Linked DNA regions of Homo sapiens. The protein of the gene in region 2 binds, or shares a complex with, the protein of the main gene of each other region. Links are inferred from orthologs where the notes say so. Each region holds a gene or a part of one and is shown on either strand. Other genes may lie near its edges. The genes, in order: F2 and F2RL2.

Evidence for each region.
Region 1: the proteins of F2RL2 (region 2) and F2 are in contact, whole or in part, in a crystal structure (PDB 2PUX), measured with the Mus musculus proteins. The link is inferred for Homo sapiens from one-to-one orthologs. Residues at the interface, in NP_034300.3 of Mus musculus: Thr46, Phe47, Glu48, Glu49, Phe50, Pro51, Asp54, Ile55, Glu56; in NP_034298.1 of Mus musculus: Phe379, Gln384, Glu385, Leu386, Leu420, Arg422, Arg428, Thr429, Arg430, Tyr431, Arg433, Lys437, Ile438, Ser439, Met440, Lys467, Pro470.

The regions. Positions count from the first base shown.
Region 1 is NC_000011.10:46,716,772-46,720,688, reverse strand, and holds the start of F2 (prothrombin preproprotein), read right to left. Parts: upstream 1,477-3,917; 5' UTR 1,454-1,476; coding exon 1,375-1,453; intron 988-1,374; coding exon 827-987; intron 167-826; coding exon 142-166; intron 1-141. UniProt on the Homo sapiens protein: Thrombin, which cleaves bonds after Arg and Lys, converts fibrinogen to fibrin and activates factors V, VII, VIII, XIII, and, in complex with thrombomodulin, protein C. Functions in blood homeostasis, inflammation and wound healing.
Region 2 is NC_000005.10:76,616,748-76,620,664, forward strand, and holds part of F2RL2 (proteinase-activated receptor 3 isoform 1 precursor), read right to left. Parts: intron 1,896-3,917; coding exon 835-1,895; 3' UTR 1-834. UniProt on the Homo sapiens protein: Receptor for activated thrombin coupled to G proteins that stimulate phosphoinositide hydrolysis.

The DNA.
Region 1 (3,917 bases), on a different chromosome or scaffold from region 2:
ACAGATGGGAGGGACCAAGGAAGGAGTGGGGAAGGGGTGGATGGGTGGATGGCTAGGTGCAGCAGAAGATTCTCTGGGTAGAATTCTCTCACTGGGGTCCCCAGGCCTCCCTTCCTGGGGCAAATCCTTCCCGGTGCTCACCTGTGTACTTGGCCCAGAACACATCCTGAAAAACAAGGGCTGGGAGTGAGGCTACGGCAGCTCCTGTTTTGTGTTGTTTTAGTAAATGTTATGTCTCCTCCTCACACTTTCCTTTACCCTGGTCACGCAGGGGGCAGGCTCTGGGGAGGTTTGTGGCAGAGTTTCCTACTTTTGTTTCCAAAAGGAGAAGAATATTTGAGGATAGGGGAGTTCCTCCAACACACACACCGAGACTGAAAGAGGCTGGGGGAGATGGGAGGAGAGGGGGCAGTGGGACCCTGGCAGAGCCCTACAGACAGGAAAGGCGACACAGAGCTCCAGGAACACTGAGTCTTGAGCCCGGGGGCTTGTGGTGGCCTCCCCAGAGTCCCACCCCTCAAGGGTGGTGTGGGAGTCTGCCGCTGAGGAGGCCATGTGGACACAGAGCTCCAGGGCAGGTGGATGTCTGAAGACTGTGGAGGCCTCCCCATGTCATGGAGCTGCACAGGGACACAGTCCAGGCACAGAGACCCCCAGGAAAGGCTGAGGCCGCTCCTCTTGCCAGCCCTGTGAGGAGGGGCTCAGAGTTGAAATGAGGCTGTGAGCAGCGAAGGGGCTGTGGCGTTCCTCGCTTGCTTCTCTGTGGAAGTGTCTAGAGTTGGGCCCGGTCTGAGGCCCCGGCACCGTCCGAGCAGCCCAGGCTCACCGTAGCCGTGGAGGACTCCAGAGCCTCGAAGGCCTCCTCGTAGCTGCACGTCTCCTCCACGCACTCTCGCTCCAGGTTGCCCTTGCGCACCTCCTCCAAGAAGGTGTTGGCTCGCCGGACCCGCTGGAGCAGCGACCGTGCTTGCTGAGGAGCCAGGAACACTGTAAGGCGGTGGGGGGGTCATGGGACAGCGGCCTCAGGAACAGGCAGTCTTGGCCATTCTGGGGGCATGAAGCAAGCCCACCCTCCCCTGCTGGCTTCTGAGAGAGGCTGTCTGGGCTGGTGGAAGTGCCTGGAAGGCTGCTAAATGTGGCCCCCTGTGCCCCTCCTACACTGCCCCTTGCCCCCAGCCTGCTCCCTATATTGGAAGAGAGAAGCAGCCATTCTCTTTCCAGCCCTGAGCTCCTGACTTCTTCCCTAAGCTGGCCGCCTGGGGCTGAGACCTACTTAGGGGCCAGCTCTGTGTGCTCTGTCCAGCCAGGAGACCCCAGCCCATGGGCCCACACCCCAGTCCTCCAGCCTGTTCCAGCCTGCAAGCACTCCCTTACCATGCTGGCTGTGCACAAGGCTACACAGGGCAGCCAGGGCCAGGCAGCCAGGCAGCTGCAAGCCTCGGACGTGCGCCATAGTGTGTCAGCTCCTGGGTCACTGAGGAATTGTCTGTCCTGACCCCTCTGGGTTAATGTTGAACTAACATGAAGAAATCAGCGGAGAGGGTGAGGTCAGAGGGTCAGGGCCGTGGGGACGGGTGGGTAGATAGTCCTCCTGTCCATCTCCACCATCTGGGAGGACAGGTCCTCCTGGGAGCAGGGATGGATGGTCTAGGAGGAGTCACAAAAAAGGTCACTGTCACCCCCATCTCCCACCCTCCCCCTCTGAGATTTAGCCCATTCTGGCCAGTGGGGCTATGAGACTTTCCTGGAGCTCCTTCGAATCCTAACATATAGCGGTGGTTGCTTGTCATCTCTGTGTGCCTCAGTTTCCTCATCTATACAATGGGAATAATACTTTGTTGTGAGGACTAAAGGAGATTAGGAATGGAATGTCCATGGAATATCGTAAGTTCTTAATCAGATCTGCACATATAGGCCAATGTGGGGGTTTGTATAATCATAATACACAGATATCAAAAATAGAGACAAAGATAAAAGGTGTGGCCTGATGGAAGTTGCCCCTCGCCATGGGATGCACCAGGGATAGGAACAGCCAACATTTGCCCCAGCTTCTCAGCCACTGGAGGAGGGGCCCATTTCTCCTCCTTCCTGTCCAGGGTGCCTGGAGGTGTGTTTGTGTGTGGCAGCTGCCTGGGAGGAGTCAGGTCCAGGGACTCTTGGGCCTTTAGTCTATCTTCTGTCACCTCCCAGGACCTGCGCCTGTCCCGGAACAGGGGCTACTGAAATCCCTGGGTCTCCACTGAGGGGCCCTCCTTCTCCCTGGCTGCCTGCCCCATGGCAGGCCTAGAGAGGCTTCTGGTCCTACCCTACCCTCCGCCCTACTCCTGTCCCTCCCCCATTTCCTGTTTGCAGTACCCAAGGCAAATATTAGTCTAAGTAGGACAGAGGGACAAAGAGCAGGAACACGGGGAGGCACAAGTTCTCGCCTCGCCTCACCTGTCCTTTGGGCCTGGCTGTTTGGGGTCTGGACCAGGTCATGTGTGGGAACAGGGAGTGTTGGCAGAAAAACTGGGGACCAGGACTCCCGCAAACACCTTAATTCCTGGGAGGCCCATTTCTTATATATTTTCATATATATATTTTTAGGCCAGGCATAGTGGCTCACACTTGTAATCCCAACACTTTGGGAGGCCGACATGGCAGGATCGCTTGAGGCCAGGAGTTTGAGACCAGCCTGGGCAACATAGCAAGACCCTCATCTCTACCAAAAAAAAATTAAAAATTAGCTGGGAATGGTGGTGCATGCCTGCAGTCTGAGCTACTGAGGAGGCTGAGGCAGGAGGATCACTTGAGCCCAGGAGTTCCAGGCTGCAGTGAGCTATGATTGCACCACTGTACTCCAGCCTGGGTAACAGAGTAAGATCCTGTTTCTTTCTTTCTTTCTTTCTTTCTTTTTTTTTTTTTTTTTTGAGACGGAGTCTCGCCCTGTCACCCAGGCTGGAGTGCAGTGGAACAATCTCGGCTCACTGCAATTTCCATCTCCCTGTTCAAGTGATTCTCCTGACTCAGTATCCCAAGTAGCTGGAATTACAGGCGTGTGCCACCACACCTGGCTAATTTTTGTATTTTTAGTAGAGATGGGGTTTCGCCACATTGACCAGGATGGTCTCGAACTCCTGACCTCAGGTGATCCGCCCACCTCCACCTCGGCCTCCCAAGTGCTGGGATTACAGGCGTGAGCCACCATGCCTGGCCTGAATGAGACCTGTTCCTAGAAAAATAAAATAAAATAAAATAAAATTGAATAAATAAAATAAAATTATAATATATATTTTGGGTTTTTGTTGTTTTGTTTTTGAGATGGAGGCTGGAGTGCAATAGCGTGAACTCGGCTCACTGCAACCTCTACCTCCTAGGTTCAAGCGATTCTCCTGCCTCAGCCTCCCGAATAGCTGGAACTACAGGCACCCGCCATCATGCCTGGCTAATTTTTGTATTTTTGTAGAGACAGAGTTTCACCATGTTGCCCAGGCTGGACGTGAACTCCTGACCTCAGGTGATCTGCCCACTTTAGCCTCCCAAAGTGGGGATTACAGGCGTGAACCACTGCTACCTACCTGTTGGGTTTTTTTGTTTGTTTTTGTTTTGTTTTGTTTTGTTTTTTTGAGATGGAGTCTCACTCTGTCACCCAGAAAGGAGTGCAGTGGCGTGATCTCAGCTCACTGCAACCTCGGCCTCCTGAGTACAAGTGATTCTCCTGCCTCAGCCTCCCAAGTAGCTCCCAAGTGCATGCTAGGGATTACAAGCATGCACTACCACGCCCAGCTAATTTTGTATTTTTAGTAGAGATGGGGTTTCACCATGTTGGTCAGGCTGGTCTCGAACTGCTGACCTCAGGTGATCCACCTGCCTCGGCCCCCCAAAGTGCTGGGATTACAGGTATGAGCCACTGCCCGGCCTCTTTGCAGACTTTTACT
Region 2 (3,917 bases):
GGAGGCTGAGACAGCAGGATTGCTTGAGCCCAGGAGTTGGAGGCTGAAGTGAGCTATGATCAGGCTACTGCACTTCAGCCAGGTGACGAAGCGAGACACTGTCTCTATTAAAAAAAGGAAAAAAGAAGGCAAAGGTGAAACTAGATAAAAGACCCTGGTGAGGGACCCTACAAAGATAGAATCAGTTGATGAGGCAGCCACCAGCATGAGAGTCAAAAGAGACCAAAGAATAAAAAATGATGTCAAATGTCAAGGATGGCAATACCACTCACAGAAATAGGGAAGATGGTGATTTAAAGAGCTTGAAGTAGCAATAAGGCAAATGGAAATGTCATTTTCCATAGAGTTGTGATATCTTTTCTCCTGCATTAACATTTTTAAAATACTGATAAAGTGTTTTTAAAAATTACTAATGCTGGCTGGCTCAGTGGCTCACGCCTGTAATCCAGCACTTTGGGAGGCTGAGGCCGGAAGATCACTTGAGGTCAGGAGTTCAAGACCAGCCTGGTCAACATGGTGAAACCCCGTCTCTACTAAAAATACAAGTATTTTTAGTAGCTGGGCATGGTGGTGTAATCCCAGCTACTTGGGAGGCTGACCTGGGAGGCAGAGGTTGCAATGAGCCAAGATAGTGCCACTGCACGCCAGTCTGGGTGATAAAGTGAGACTCAGTCTCAAAAACAAACAAACAAACTACTAATGCTTTTGTAATGTTTGACCTTTGAAGCATATTTCTTAGGAGCTCGGAAATGGAGCTCCTTGCACTATGCTTATGTTGTTCTTGAAAACAGACGTTCTCTGTGATGGCTGTCCTTGTTCTCTAAGATCATTTCACTATTTTGTAAGGTAAGCAGTGGAGTGATTTCTGGTTTTTGACATGAGAAAATAAAGGAATGGATCTAAGCAACTATTAAGACTACCCAGGCACAAAGCTATGAGATATATAAAATATAAGCCATCAGTGTTGTTGTAGTAGTAGTTAGCATGGTGAATAATAAGAATAATATTGCTTGGAGCAAAGCAAATGGTAAAAATCACAAGGATGAGGAGACTCGCCTTAACATACCACAACCATCTATGATCGTATGCATTAAGTGTCCGGATGATGGCTGCATAGCAGTAGATGATAAGCACAAATGGAATTAAGAATCCAAAGAATGCCAAGGAGATGAAGTAATAGAGTTGGAAGGGAGATGAGGACTCGCAAGTGTTGTGAACATCATGGCAGGTGGTGATGTCTGGCTGAACAAGATAATATTCCTGCTTCAGTATGAAAAATGGCAGCATATATAAGAAAACTGTTGCCCACACCAGTCCACATGTTACCAAGGCATAGGTGTGCTTGGGCAGGCCCCGGTAGGTGAAAGGATGGACGATGGCCAGGTAGCGGTTGATGCTGATGCAGGCAAGGAGCAGAATGGAGCAGTACATGTTGCCATAGAAGATGACTGTGGTGGCCCGGCACAGGACCTCTCCAAATACCCAGTTGTTCCCATTGAGATGATAAGCTATCTTAAAGGGCAATGTAACACAAAAAAGAAAATCTGCAATGGCCAGGTTGGTGTAGAATACAGTGGTACAGATGGATCTGGTCCTGAAGAAAAGCATCCACAGGGTCACAGCATTGGCCGGGACACCAACTACAAACACCAGGAGGTAGATGGCAGGTATCAGTTTAGTACTTAAGGAGCTGGTCAGGTACCCCATGGTAGCATTTTTCACATGGAGATGTGAAGCACTTTCTTCAGGGCACTTAATTTTTACAGTAATCGTGGCTCCTGTCCAGCCTTCCAAGGCAGAAAAGGGGAACTCTTCAAAAGAATTTGGGGGAGCTCCACGAAAGGTCTTAATGGGTAAGGTTGGCTTTGCCAAGTTGTTTGTATCATTTTCCATGCCTGTAATTGAAAGAAAGTATTAACATAAATGTATAGTTCAAGAGAAAAGAAAGTGTGTTTAATTATTTGTAAATAATTTCTGTGATTGTAGAATTTAAGATCATTTTTATTTTAAAAAGTTATTGTAGATTAGGCAGTCAACAAGCATATATTTAATACATATCATATGCCCCAGAACAACACTATCTTGTGCGGAAACAAAAACTAAATGATCAGTCCTTGTATGTAAAGTGTTTATAATACTATTAGAAGAAACAAAAACAGCCCATCAGAACATTATAGGCATGTTGACTACAAACTATACAGGCATTCAGACAATACTTAATAGATTCAGATGTTTGAGCAAAATGTCAAGGAAAAGATGAACTTGAGCAAAGACTAGCAAGGTTCCTAAAAAGATGGAATTTAATGAGTAAGATTCTGCTGGTGATGAATGGACAGAAGCATAGTGTGGGCTATCATGGGATCTGGGAATGCCAGATAAGTTGATTTAGCAAATTTTTATTGTACATTGATGTGTCAGTGGTGTAAAGTTTTAAATAAAATCCATTTCTATCTGTAAGTAATGCTACTCGTGGAGAAGATGCATAAAAATGCATTGTCTTATGCGAATAAAGTGCAGCTGAGAAAGGAAATTGAAAGAGTGGGTGACAGCTAAATTCCTGAAGGGCCTCTAAACTGTCCTAAGAAATCATATGTCTATTCACAGATGATGGGATTGCACACACAATTTTGAACAGAGGAATGACCATTGTGTTAGGCAGAATAGTAGCCCCCCGCAAAGATTCTACCTGCTAATTCCTGGAACCTACAAGTATATTCCTTTACCTAGCAAAAGGGATTTTGCAGATCTAACTTAGTTAAGGATCTTCTTTTTTTTTTTTTTTTTTTTTTGAGACAGTCTCACTCTGTCGCCCAGGCTGGAGTGCAGTGGCACGATCTCAGCTCACTGCAACCTCCGCCTCCCGGGTTCACGCCATTCTCCTGCCTCAGCCTCCCCAGTAGCTGGGACTACAAGCGCCCGCCACCAGGCCTGGCTAATTTTTTGTATTTTTTTAGTAGAGACAGGGTTTCACCATGTTAGCCAGGATGGTCTCGATCTCCTGACCTCGTGATCTGCCCGCCTCGGCCACCCAAAGTGCTGGGATTACAGGCGTGAGCCACCGCGCCCGGCCAGTTAAGGATCTTAAAATGAGATTTTCCTGGATTGCCTGGGTGGGTCAAATATAATCATAACAGTCCATATAAGGGGAAGGTAAGAGGGTTGTCAAAGTCAGAGATTTGAAGATGCTATGCTGCTGGCTTTGAAGATGGAAGAAAGGGTCATAACCCAAGGAATGCAGGCAGATTCTAGAAGCTGAAAAAAGCAAGATAGCCGATTCTCTCCTAGAGCCTCGAGAATGAACACAACCCCACCAACAGCCTTGATTTTAAGACCTCTGATCTCCAGAAATATAATCTGTTATTTTAAGCCACTCAGTTTGTAATGATTTGATATAGCAGCAGTAGGAAACGAATATAGCCGTTATTTTGACTTGTTTTTAAGATGACTTAGGTAATAGTGTAGAGAACAGATTGGAAAGGTAAGAAATTACAGGCAAGGGGACCTGATTTGGAGGCTACTGTCATCATTCATAGCTCAGTGAGTTACTGAGCTAGAACAGTGGTTATGGAAAGGCAGAGGCGAACACGTGAGACTCTGATGGCGGCTTAAAGGGACTTGGTTCTGATTGGCTTTGGGGTGCAGTGAGGGAGAGGCAGGAAGCAATAATGACTCAGGTTTCTACTCTAGATGACTTGGAGGGAGAGGATGCCATTAACTGAGTTGGAGGGAGACAAGGAGACAGGATCGGGGAGAAGCTACAATCTGTTTTTAGTCTGACTGAGGATGAGTTGCTGGTGGAATATTAGTGTGTAAAATGTCCAGCAACTGGTTAGAAGACTGGATGTGGGTCCAAAATTCCAGGAGCCCAAATTAGAGGCATGATTTATTGTAGTCTGCATGGAGGCTCTCGTTTAATT